2 linked regions of the Homo sapiens genome follow. The protein of the gene in region 2 interacts with the protein of the main gene of each other region in a pairwise test. Each region holds a gene or a part of one and is shown on either strand. Other genes may lie near its edges.

What was found. Proteins that work in one complex are often made in the same cells at the same time.
Region 1: the proteins of KLKB1 (region 2) and SNX12 interact in binary tests that used the Homo sapiens proteins (3 or more experiments, as listed by UniProt).

What each region holds. Positions count from the first base shown.
Region 1 is NC_000023.11:71,058,747-71,065,366, forward strand, and holds the end of SNX12 (sorting nexin-12), read right to left. Parts: intron 5,966-6,620; exon of another isoform or gene 5,842-5,965; coding exon of another isoform or gene 5,839-5,841; intron 4,204-5,838; coding exon 4,108-4,203; intron 3,222-4,107; coding exon 3,097-3,221; intron 2,373-3,096; coding exon 2,270-2,372; 3' UTR 501-2,269; downstream 1-500. UniProt on the Homo sapiens protein: May be involved in several stages of intracellular trafficking.
Region 2 is NC_000004.12:186,230,496-186,237,527, forward strand, and holds part of KLKB1 (plasma kallikrein isoform 1 preproprotein), read left to right. Parts: intron 1-1,631; coding exon 1,632-1,794; intron 1,795-3,456; coding exon 3,457-3,563; intron 3,564-6,285; coding exon 6,286-6,445; intron 6,446-7,032. UniProt on the Homo sapiens protein: Participates in the surface-dependent activation of blood coagulation. Activates, in a reciprocal reaction, coagulation factor XII/F12 after binding to negatively charged surfaces.

The DNA.
Region 1 (6,620 bases), on a different chromosome or scaffold from region 2:
TCTGCCTGTGTCAAATTTATTTGGGAAAAAAAACAGTGTCAGTTGAGATAAAAAGCCTATAGAAGAAATGTTTGTTGGTGTTGTGTGGGTGTGTCAGAGGATGAACACATGCATGTGTGTTTATGTACATGTATTACATATGCAGACACACACATACACACATACACACACACATATATAATAAATATATTCTGCCCAAATTAGCACAAACCCACAAGCTTAAAAACCAAATCTGCTAAATCTGACTCAAACAACAGGTACTGAGCCTACAGCTACTTCCTGCAAGCAGATGCATTACCTCTGTGACAAAGTCAGTTGTGAGTTGCAAAAAGGATAGGTAAATATCATTAAGATAAGTTAAGATTCTGCTTTCTAAAAAAATTTAAATGCAAAACATTACCTCAGGACACTGGCCACACTGTATGATTTCTGCATAATACCCAGCATATCCTAGACACTAAAGAATACTAAATTTACAACTTAAGCAGGAAAACAGAGGCTTGCTTCACAGTGGTTTAATATGAACAGAGTTGAATATGACATTGTCTGACAGAAGAATGAACAGTTTGCTGAATAAAAGCCCCGAGTCAGGATATATATACACAGCAGAAATGGGGCCTCAGACTCTCAGCACTTGTGCACAATGAAAGAGGAAATCGTTTTTAAAAAATGTCTATAACAGAGGATACAAATCAAAAAGGCAGCAACAACAACATTGGCGAGGTGGGAAAGGGAGCAGAGCCTCTCATTAGGGGCTGCTTAGCCCCTGGCGCAGGCTCAGCAGCTGGAGAGCTGTCTCAGGGAACTTCAACATTTAGATGGGTTCCAAATCCTATGTCAAAATACAATCCTAATCTCTCTGATCAGGGTCAGTCAGAATCAGCAATCCTTTTCCACAGTGCCCTGCATAGAAAACTCCAATCTTTCCATGATAGGGAGTCTAAGCAAAGAGCCCCCACCTCTCACCTGGCACCAAAGTTAACTTACTCTCACCCCACCACTTGGGACAGACGTTGGGCCCCAGCAAACAAACCACCCCCTCCAAGACAGAAACCAGGATAGTTGCCAGCCTCAAGAAGCTGCTTCAAATGTTAAGATTTAGGAAATCCATACCAAGCTGCTATCCATAGTTCAACTTCTGGGGAAAATGCTGGAGTTGCATGAGAAACAAGTGCAGGCAGTTCAATAACCCTGTGACCACGCTGGGGAGGGCAGCAAAAACTCTTGCCCCTGAGCCCCATTCAACAACTCAAAGTGCTTAGGAGAAGTCAGAGACTGTGTGGTTGGTTTGTGTGCTTCTGCCCTGTGGCAGCACTAAATGGGATGGGGGAAAGGAGAATGGAAGGAAGACAGTGTTGATGCCCTTCCCTACCGCGGGTAAGAGCCTAGAAGATAATCCACTCCCACCCTTCAGGGAGTTACCTGGCAGTGGTGAGTTGCCCCCACCCCTCAAGCCACCAAACCTGCAAAGCTAACCCATAAAGTAGCAAGGGCTTAGGGAGGGAGAACTGCTGGCCCATACTGACTCACCAGCTGATGAGCAAAAATAGGCAGCTAGAGTGGGAGCCACAAAGGGAGAGGGGCTAGGCAATAGGAGCTCCCCTACTGCCCTATGGCTTTCTTCTGACTCTGAAGCAGCCATAATGATGGGCCCAGAAAACCCACACACCCTGCTCCATACAACAGACTGCTTGGACTCTAGGAGGATTACTGCCATGGAAAGCAACAAGGGAGAGAGAAAGCAACAAAAGAAACTGTTAAGAAAACTGGGAGCAGGCCTGAAGAAAACAAGGAAAGCTTCTGAGTCTCTACCACCTTTCCAAAAAGGAAAAAATACATGCAGTTAGGAAAGGCAGGGTTTTTCCCTGCTCAGTGTTCTTGGTTAAACCTAAGAGTAAGAAAAATCCCCTGAACTTGCAGCATCAGTATGTATCCAAGTGCCTCACCAGCACAAGCGCCCCCCTCCCCCCAGGTTAGCCTTCTGGCATGGGTAAATGCCCAAGAAATTGCCTTCCAGTCTAATCCCCCCACCCACCCACCCCAACCCCAAGCAAAGGGCATCTGCCTGTGGGTTCCCACCTCTCCTCAGAGAAGAGGATCCTAGCAGAGTGCCCACATGGTGTAGTCAGGTACCAGGGAGCACAATGCCAGACAGTCTATCAGGCCAGGAGATGGGCAGCCAACTTCAGATCAAAGACAGAGAGAGGCTTAGTGTAAAAACCAATGTCATTTCAGCAGGAAAGTAGAGGGCAGGTGGTGAGAGGGGCTCCTACTGGCGCACCTTCCCCGGGACGTAGTTCCTGTCAATTGCCTCCTCTTGCAGGAACATGTGTAGGCAGCGTTCATTCTGAGCCAGTGGGTGCCCAGCAATTCTATAAAGAAACCAGGATGGTTATCAGTAGTATTCAGAATCAGAGAGAATTAGCAGAGGGATGGGGATGTGGACAGGGGAAGAAGGGCAAGGTCAGCCCTGAGGTTCAAGCCAGTAGAGGACAGCAGTAGGGTACCACCTCAACCCTAATATTGTAAAGGGGACGGGGGATAGAGGGGCAAGACAGGGAAATCCCTAGATATAACCAACATGCAGTGCTTTCTCAGGCCCTGACACACAGGATCAGAATCCTACTCAAAGGAATGGAGTTTTACTGTCCAGTCAGCCCACCACACAATTGGCACCACATCATGGTACCCATTATAAAAGGTGAGCTGGGTGCGGTGGCTCACGCCTGTAATCCCAACACTTTGGGAGGCCAAGGCAGGTGGATCACTTAAGGTCAGGAGTTCGAGACCAGTCTGGCCAACATGGTGAAACCCCATCGCTACTAAAAACATGAAAATTAGCTGGGCATGGTGGCCGGCGCCTGTAATCCCTGTTACTCAGGAGGCTGAGGCAGGAGAATCACTTGAACCCAGGAGACGGAGGTTGCAGTGAGCCGAGATCACACCATTGCACTCCAGCCTAGGTGACAGAGTGAGACTCTGTCTCAAATAAATAAATAAGTAAATAAAAATAAAATAAAAGGTGAGGTAAACAAAACATATAGAAAGACTACGATGGCAAAAGTAGCAAGTGGAGCCCCCAGGAACTTGGCTTACTTGTTAATAAACTGCTCGAGGCCCTGCCTCCTTTCTTCGATGAAAGACTCCTCAAAGATCCCTTCATCTCCTCGGAAAGGGAGCTGCCGCTTCAAGGCTTTCCCAGGCAGTGGTGGTACTACAATCTGCAGGCACACACAAAATTCCAGCCACATGGGAGAGAGACAGAGTGGGAATGAGATGGTAAAGCACCGTGTACCTCATTTCTTATTAGGCATAGGGTCCATCCTGTCCCACAGCCAGCAACTTGCAAGAACTAAGACCATAAGAACAGTCAGGATGGCTCAGGTCAAAAATTAATCCGTTTCTGTGGGAAGACAGGTTTACCACCTCAAAAGAAGGAAATAAACTCCAAATAATCCTCACTTTCCTTAACAAGCCACTACCATTCAAGAATTTAGCTAGGATTTTCCTGACACTAGACTTTCCATTTTTAGCACCTACAGGAATTAAGTTGTACAACTTTACTAGCGACTAAGTGAAGTAATACTTTAAAAAAAAAACTTGTCCTGAACTTACCACTTTCTTTTTTTTTTTTTTTTTTTTTTGAGACAGAGTCTTGCTCTGTCATCCAGGCTGGAGTGCAGTGGCACGATCTCAGCTAACTGCAACCTCTGCCTCCCAGGTTCAAGCAATTCCCATGCCTCAGCCTCCCAAGTAGCTGGGATTACAGGCATCCACCACCACACCTGGCTGATTCTTGTATTTTTAGTACAGGCGGGGTTTCACCATGTTGGCCAGGCTGGTCTTGAACTCCTGACATCAGGTGATCCGCCCGCCTCAGCCTCCCAAAGTGCTGGGATTACAGGCGTGAGCCACTGTGCCCAGCCAGAACTTACCACTTTCAAGTTTCAAAAGGTATCCCCCCGATCTAAAATACTGAGATTTGATGGATAAGAATGTGTTCACCCTCTTCATTCCCTTCAAGACTTTATAGACTGTGGTTGTATGCCCACTCAGCCTATGCAGAGCTCCTCCTCCAAAGATGCCACACAGAGAACAAAGCCATACCTTGCTATCTCTCTCCAGCTCATTTTTCAGCCACTCAAAGTCACTGTAGCGCCGCCGTACGCAGGACTCCTTTAGCTTGAAGATAGGTAGGTTTGTCTACATGGAAGGAAAAATTAAAGAAGAAAGATGGTAATGTTCAGCCTGTGGTAGCCACCTGTCTGAGTAACTTGGACAGGTCCCAATGAAGAAATAGCTCCTATGGATCATGCTCCTATAACCCCTTCAAATCACCACCAGGTAAAAACCAACCCTTACCACATCCAACCTTATCATAGCTGATGATCAGAAGTCCCTTGCTGCTTTGAATTTATCCTACAAGTAGACTTGCAGTAGTATGTAAATATGTACATATAAGAGTTTTCACCAGGCTTGGTGGCTCACGCCTGTAATCCCAGCACTTTTGGAGGCCAAGGCAGGCAGATCACTTGAGGTCAAGAGTTCAAGACCAGCCTGGCCAACATGGTGAAACCCTGTCTCTACTAAAAATACAAAAATTAGCCAGGTGTGGCGGCACACACTTGTAATCTCAGCAACTTGTGAGGCTGAGGCAAAAGGATCACTTGAATCCAGGAGGCGGAGGTTGCAGTGAGCCAAGATCACACCACTGCACTCCATCCTGAGAGACAGAGTGAGATTCTGTCTCAAAAAAAAAAAAAAGAGTTTCACTGCATTTTATTATTTATAATAATAATAAATGTCTATGAATAGACAATAGGTTACAATGAATTATGGTATACCTGTATAGTAGAATATTAAATAACTATGAAAAGAATGTGAAAGCCAGGTGCAGTGGCTCACACCTATAATCCCAGCACTTTGGGATGCCGAGGCAAGGGATCACCTGAGCCCAGGAGTTTGAGAGCAGCCTGGGCAACCATAGCAAGATTCCATCTCTACAAAAAGTAAAAAAGCCAGGTGTAGTGGCAGTGCTCGCTTGTGGTCCCAGCTACTCAGGAGGATCACCTGAGCCCAGGAGGTCAAGGCTATGGTGAACTGTGATTATGCTACTGTAATCTGGCACAGAGACTCTGTCTCTCGAAATAAAAATGAAAGATCTCTATGTGCCAGTATGGAAAGATATTAAGTAGTAAAATCAAGGTATAGAACAGTATATATATATAGCTTGCCTCTATTTGTGTTTTAAAAAGGGATGTATATGTATATATTTATACTGATTAATAAAGTATTTATGAAAATATACTGGTAATGGTGATTGACTTTCGAGAGTAAGAGAAGACAACTGGAATGGGTGGAATAGTCACATTTTTCATTGTACAATTTGAATTTATCATGTGTACATATTACATTTTCCTTTAAAAAGTGAATTTAAATTCCCTGTAAAGAGATAAACACATCCAAGGTATGCCTACCTCTGCTCTTCCTGTCCAAATCCTCTCCATTCTACCAGTGCTCACTCAACTCTCACTTCAAACAAAAAAATTTTCTGACAACAACAACTGGATTTATTGGTTTTCCTCCTCTCTGAACTCTTCTGACAGTTATACTTTAGCATTGCCTGATACACTATTGTTTTATGCATCATGTTTGCCTTGTCTAACTAACTAATCTCATTAAGATCAGAAACTATGACTACTTCTGCATCTTCTAAAATGCAGAATATGCAAGTTACTCAATAAATGCTCAATTGATTAATAGAGACTCTATGTGTCTGTTTATCCTCTCCTCATCTAGAAAATGCATAAGAAATCACCATTACAAAAGTTGGCTTACCATAGCTTGCTCCCTGATATAAATCAGCTCATTCCCACATTTTAAACACTGAGAAGATTCCCAAGGCTCTAGTGGCAACACGAATCCCCTGACAGAAAACCCTGATCTTCACTCCTGTCTACAAGTTCTAAATAGAAATGGCCAACCACATGTATTAATACTGACCATATTTACTGCCAGTCAATTCAGGTGAGAGGATGAATAAAATAAACTAGTTATCTCCTTTCTCCACAACTGCCTCTTGGCAGGAAAAGAGCAACTCGAAACTCCATTAGAGCTTCACACAGAACCCACTACATCATGCTTTGTACTCCTTGACACTGGAAATTGTCTTTTCAGGATCCAGTTCTCAAATAGGCCATCAAAAGCCAAATAACTGGCCAATTGTACATTAAACTCCATCCAGGATCGTCAAGGTCCAAGGAATGTCAATAGGTTGAAATGGAGTGAGATTCATATAAAGTAAGATTACTAAACCATTATTTATTTAAAAGAATAAATAAGGGCTGGATGCGGTGGCTCACGCCTGTAATCCCAGCACTTTGGGAGGCGAGGCAGGCAGATCACTTGAGGTCAGGAGTTCGAGACCAGCCTGGCCAACATGGTGAAACCCTGTCTCTACTAAAAACACAAAAATTAGCCAGGTGCTTGTAATCCCAACTACTCAGGAAGGTGAGGCAGGAGAATCGCTTGAACCCAGGAGGCGGAGGCTGCAGTGAGCCGAGATCATGCCACTGCCCTCCAGCCTGGGTGACAGAGCAAGACTTTGTCTCAAAAAAAAA
Region 2 (7,032 bases):
CACCATCATTATGAGATAAATTATATAATAGTACTTTACATAGGCTCCAAAATACAGCACAGACACAGCTATCATTGTCATGGTCATCATTATCATCATGATCACCAACTTATGAGGATAAGCAAGAACACCTACTAGAAGTTTCTTTCCATTCAGCAACAAAATTGGTGTCTTTCTAGTCACTCCCTTCCCTGACTGTCACATAGCAGTTCACAGAGGCTCAGTTGCAGAATGAGAAGCTCTGGGCCAGGACCTGCCATTGTATGCATCCTTGCATGGGAACTGGGGGCTGGAAGAGGAGTGACTGCTTGATAATTATGAGTCAGTCAAAACCACCAACTGTCTGAAAAAAATAGGCCTTTTTGTAACTAGTATTGTCACTAAACCAACTCCTCCATGTTTTGTGCATACATGAAATCTAGGCAATACACTTGTATTCCCAAAAGCTTCCACTTGAAGAGATCTGTGCTCTTTCCAAATATAAACCTTACCCGAGAGGTGGTCATCTTGGCCACACCTCAGAGAGGGAGAGAGGCAGTCTTGTTGGGTTGGGTGGTCATAATGGGGCTCAGGGCCAAATCCCCAGGGGGTAGGATAGTGCAGAGAAGATGGCACTCTCCAGTGCTTAATAAAATGCACGTGGTCTAAGCTGCCCACTCCCTCAAAGGCAATAAAAAATAGGTACTATTTAAATTGAAGAGTAACTACTGCCCCAGGGAATGGACAGGTTGTCATTGGAATAGCCATGGTTAATGGTCCCAGTTGACAACTGAAATGAATGTGCTACCTGAACAGGAAAGCTTATTAACCAGATTTCAAAGACAGTCTTTCCCGGTAAATCCAAATTTACAAATTAAAGCCAGTAAAGACACCGAATTCTCTAATAATATGTGGGGTGCAGTATATTTTAGAGCTGGGAATAATTCCAAACAGCAAATAGTTCAAAATTTATTTTCAATTTAGCATATGCATGCATTTGCTTAAACTGTCTTAAAAATGAGTAAAAAATACTGTCAGTTTGTTTCAATCATACTGAGATGAGGAACAATGTTTAGCATTGCATGCTAGAAAAGGACACAGGATTGGGAGTCAGGGCTGGGTGACCGTCACAGGACTTTCACTAACTGTGTGGATCTTGGGCAAGTCTGTGTGCCCTGAGACTCAGTTATTTAACTTTCTTTTAAAAAACATAGTCCAGATGCAGATAACAAAGCCTGCCTCTAATTTCCCTTACAGAATTGTGAGAAGCTGGTGGAGATGTTTGTTACAAAAGTGTTTTGAAAATAGAGCAAATATTATTCTTTTTAAGGCATGATGTTTTCATAGCATGTCAGGCAACAGGAAAAAACTAAGTTAGGATTTTATTTTATTGTGGGGAATTTATGTGCAAATTATTGTGCAATTTAATGAAAATAAGCCAATGTTTTATACAGAAGTACCCAGAAAATTAAATAACACTATACATTGTTCAAATAGTTGCCTTAATATATTTTATTTTCTCAGCATAATTAGAGTTGTATTATACAGGTCTTTGAGTAGTCAGTCAGTGGGAGAAGTTAAGACAACAGATATCTTTTTATTAAAATTATTATATGAATTATCGCAAATTAATTTTTATGGTTCTGTCACAGGATGTCTGACTCAACTCTATGAAAACGCCTTCTTCAGAGGTGGGGATGTAGCTTCCATGTACACCCCAAATGCCCAATACTGCCAGATGAGGTGCACATTCCACCCAAGGTGTTTGCTATTCAGTTTTCTTCCAGCAAGTTCAATCAATGACATGGAGAAAAGGTAAAAGTTGGTATTTCATTATTGGAGAAGCTGTTTTTCAAAACTGAATCAGTTTTGTGCAGAAAGGTGTAGTATAACTGAGAGTTCTTCCTCACACGGGGTTCAAGGACCAGCTTCAGCAAAATCCCGTCAAGTGGTTCTTACAAATGCAGATTCCTAGGCCACAACCCAGATCTGCTGAACCAAAGTTTCTTGTGACCAGGAATCTGCATTTTAAACAATCACTGTGTTTCTTTAAAGTAGTAGAAGCTAGTCATTTTCTATTCAAAGCCTCAAAATGCTTGAATATCATTGGGCTAAGGGATTGTCTCAAGAAAGAGTCTAACAGGTGCACATTTCATCTGAATAAAGAAACAGATTTAACTGTGTGACCCATGATCACATTAGCGGATAGCACAGTCCAAAGAAAATAACATAAGACAAGCATTTTGCTGAGAATGTAATTGAGAAAGATCTAGAACTTGTGATTTTGGGACAGGGCAGTTCTAAATGGGGCCTATAGTGAGCCAGTTTGGGCACCTGTGGCATGATGCTATGTATGGTGTGTGTGTGTATGTGTGCTTGTGCTTGTGTGAATATGTATTATTAACTGGAAATTTGTAAAAGTATTGGAAAAATAGTACTTACGATTTTGTGTGTGTGTGTGATGGAGTCTCGCTTTGTAGCCCAGGCTGGAGTGCAGTGGCGTGATCTCGGCTCACTGCAACTTCCACCTCCCAGGTTCAAGCGATTCTCCTGCCTCAGCCTCCCAAGTAGCTGGGATTACAGGCACGCACCACCACGTCCAGCTAATTTTTGTAGTTTTAGTAGAGACGGGGTTTCACCACATTGGCCAGGCTGGCCTTGAACTCCTGACCTCGTGATCCACCTGCCTCTACCTCCTAATGTGCTGGGATTACAGGCATGAGCCACCGCACCCAGCGGTAATTACAATTTTTATTAGGTCAGAGAGATGCTTATTAATCACGAGCCACAGTTTCATCTTAATGATTTTTCCTTTTGATTAATATCCAGAGTAAGCTTTTCTTTGTTGTTCCCATTTCCATGTTCATAACTCTTTACTCATCTTCACTCTATGTGAGTTTACCAACTAGAAATTGGATAGTCATTCTCTGATCCCACATGTTAAACTTGTAGAGAAAACTCAGATTGTATGTGAGGATCATCATATTAAAAGTGGAGGAAGGTTCTAGAATTCTTATAAATAATGAAATTAACATGAAGGTGGACATCTAAGACAGAGGGAAGTCTTCCATTAAGTGCAGACTACAAGGAGTTAATAAGCAAGATGAACACGATATACAAATCCAGCTCTTATCACTAAGTTAACTTTTTAAGTAAATGAAAGTATTTGCAAAAATAATTACCAATTGAGAACATAGTTGCCTGAAAGTTTAAGAACACAGGAAAAATCATTAACTCTTTAATATGGTTGATTTCCTGTACTTAAAAAATGTGAGTGTAAAGAAAACGCAGTGATGGAGTTAGATATTATGGGGTGTTATAAAATTAGCTCTAAGAGTGTTCTTTCCAGCAAGTATTGGGGAAGCTATATTATTTTCCTTATTCCTGGTTTTATTTGTTAGTGTGTAGAAAATGCTAGACATTTCCTCAATGTATGTTTATTATTCTACTTCCTAAGTAAAGCTACTTTTAAAATAGGTTTGGTTGCTTCTTGAAAGATAGTGTTACAGGAACCCTGCCAAAAGTACATCGAACAGGTGCAGTTTCTGGACATTCCTTGAAGCAATGTGGTCATCAAATAAGTGGTAAGTTGTGAATTTCTTAGCTACATTTGAGTTAATATTGGATCTCGCTTAGAACAGCTTTTGCTCAAAGTTTGTACTGCTACAGCTTTTTGGAAGGCATCACTCATAAAGATAGGAGATGGGGCAGTATTCTGGACACAAAAGAGGGACCCATATTCATCTGGACACTTCTATTGTCTTTATAAATCAACACATACTTAATGAGCCTCTATTATTTATGAGGTTAGCGCTCAAGTGTAAGATTTGCAGAAAATGAATCCAAATAATTGTGTCTCGTTTCCAGATAAGAATTTTTAAGAAAACACAAGGGAACATCTCTCTCAAGTTCACTTGAGGGTAATTTTTACATCAGTGATTCTCAACCAGCAGTGATTTTGTCTCTTCCACTGGGGACATTTGACAATGTCTGGAGACATTTTTGGTGGCTACAACTAGGGAGGATGCTATTAGCATTTACTAAGTAGAGGCCAGAATGTTTGAATGCTGACCAACATTCTACAAGGCACAGGGCAGTCGTCCACAGCAAATAATTTTCTGGCCCAAAACGTCAACAGTGCTGACATCAAGAAACTCTGTGATATACCACTAGGCCCAAATTGAAGAACTGAGTTCTGCAAATCTTGCTAAGAATAATACTTCCTAAAGGAAACTTGAGGACTAGGATGCTAGAGAACTTTGATTCTGACATCTGAAGCTACTGATGTCTTGGGAAACAGTTTCCAATGCTATCCTAATAAATTTAAGACAAATGAACTATTTCTCAAACATGACTGGGACTGATAAGAAAGTGAAAAGTGCTGAAAAGATTCAACTGATGGGTTGTCAGAATCTTAAAATAACTGCTGTTATTCTATGTATGACTATATATCATTACTATTTTATTTTCATTATGCACAATTAATTTTGTAGGTTCAAATTTCAGATGTTTTTAAATTTGTCATCCTTTCCTCCCTCATTGATATCACCTCTTCAATACGTACACACTTTGAGCCTGCTGTTTGCATTTTAACCAGTTATCAAAGGATGGCAATGCCTTCATTATAAATGTGGGCCTGACTTAGCCAGTATAATAGGTGTAGTCTACGTGAGGTGGAGTACATTTCCTATTTTAAAAGATCAATTTTTATGTTAATCCAATTTGGTATAAATTATTCGAGTAAGTGCTATTTCTGATTGTTGTATCTTGTAGCAAAATTTAAAGAAAAAGTAATTTGTGCCTTTCTCAATATTCCTGTTATTGTTCATGTATTCTAAAACTCACTGTTACTCACTTAGCTTGCTTTTAATGTTTTTTAAAGTGAAAAATTGTTCCCAAGTACATAAAATCTCTACACTCAAGAACAATTCTAGTCAAAAGCATTTAGAGCTTCCGTATGAACACTTAAAGAGTTTTTATTTGTAAGAGTCGCATCCCAACTCTTAGCCTGTTCTTTTCTCACATGCAGAAAAATAGGAAAGAGACTTCGTTTCCACAGTCTGCAAATTCCTGTGTTTAAGAACCACAGTGAATAATCCACCTCCCTGCCCAACTCATCGTACTGTCATATAGTTTTCCTGACAGTTTGTGTATTTTCTGTCTTTCCCACCCTTAAATTTAGTTTTATGACTTCAACCATACTTCTTAGGAGTGGAAAGGTATCTGTAGTAGATTATGGTTTATTCCACATAATCTTGGGGAATAAAACTTTAAAAAAGTATACAGTTTATACTTCTGGTTACATTACTTCCTTAACCAAAAGTCTAACCAAGAAATTTGAATCTTTAAAAAAAAAAGAGGCCGGGCGCGGTGGCTCACGCCTGTAATCCCAGCACTTTGGGAGGCCGAGACGGGCGGATCACGAGGTCAGGAGATCGAGACCATCCTGGCTGACACGGTGAAACCCCGTCTCTACTAAAAATACAAAAATTAGCCGGGCGTGGTGGCGCGCGCCTGTAGTCCCAGCTACTCGGGAGGCTGAGGCAGGAGAATGGCGTGAACCCGGGAGGCGGAGCTTGCAGTGAGTCGAGATCGCGCCACTGCGCTCCAGCCTGGGCGACAGAGCGAGACTCCGTCTCAAAAAAAAAAAAAAAAAAAAGAGCCTAATTTTGCTTCACTGTCTGTGAAAAGAATTATCTGTATCTTTTGCATGTAAGACAAATCTCAATGAAAAGGGTGCTTAAATAGAAGTTAACACTATTTTAAAGCAAGAATGGAAGTGGTTTCATCATGCGTAAACAACAACTCTCCACATTTTGTAATGATTGATCTGGATGCAATTTGTCATCAGACAGGAGAAGTCGAAAGCAAAGAAATAACACTGGGAGATAGAGAAGCTCTTTCATTCAATGCGAAAGGTCAAAGGCACATCAGTTTCTTTAATAATGCAAACCTCAGCACACATTATCAGTGTCCTCATTATTATTGCCTTGTTTATTTCCCACTGCTCATTGATAATTTCAACGTGAAATTTACCTGTATTGCTGCATGCATCTTGCAGTTTAAGAAGTGAAGTAACCCAATTTCAAAGCTAGTGCTTTAGGGAAAATATTGGATTGTATTTACTTCAAGCAGAGTTCGATAATTTATGTACATAATAAAAATTTTAAATCCCTTAGTTAATATAGCAGTTGCCAAAACTGGGCTATTATCATTCTAAACTACCAACCCAAATGGTAGTGGGTATCTAATCTACCTCTAGAAAGAAAATGGACTGTATTTGCTCTATGTATTTTTCTTGTACAGCTTGCCATCGAGACATTTATAAAGGAGTTGATATGAGAGGAGTCAATTTTAATGTGTCTAAGGTTAGCAGTGTTGAAGAATGCCAAAAAAGGTGCACCAGTAACATTCGCTGCCAGTTTTTTTCATATGCCACGCAAACATTTCACAAGGCAGAGTACCGGTGAGTACAATTCAAGGTGTGTGTTCTTTGTATTGGTGCCTCCAGGATTTCACTGTATTCTTCTTAACCTCTTTTGTTCCCAAACTAAAAACCAAACAGGGCTTTTATTCTAACCACTTTCCTCATTTACTTACTCTATTTTATTTTTTTATCTTTTATTTATTTATTTATTTATTGAGATGGAGTCGCGCTCTGTCGCCCAGGCTAGAGTGCAGTGGCGTAATCTCGACTCACTACAACCTCCGCTTCCCGGGTTCAAGCGATTCTCCTGCCTCAGCCTCCCGAGTAGCTGGGATTACAGGCGTCCGCCACCATGCCTGGCTAATTTTTGTATTTTTAGTAGAGTCGGGGTTTTACTATGTTGGTCAGGCTGGTCTCGAACTCCTGATCTTGTGATCCACCCACCTCAGCCTCCCAAAGCGCTGGGATTACAGGCATGAGCCACTGCGCCTCGCCCTTCATTTTTTAATTAAATAATTCATTTAATTTCATTTGTTTCTCTACTCTTTTCCCCTGGCATGTAATTGTACCGCATCTTCAAAGCCTGACATCCTCTTCCCCTACTTCTCCAAAGCTGATTCTTGCAG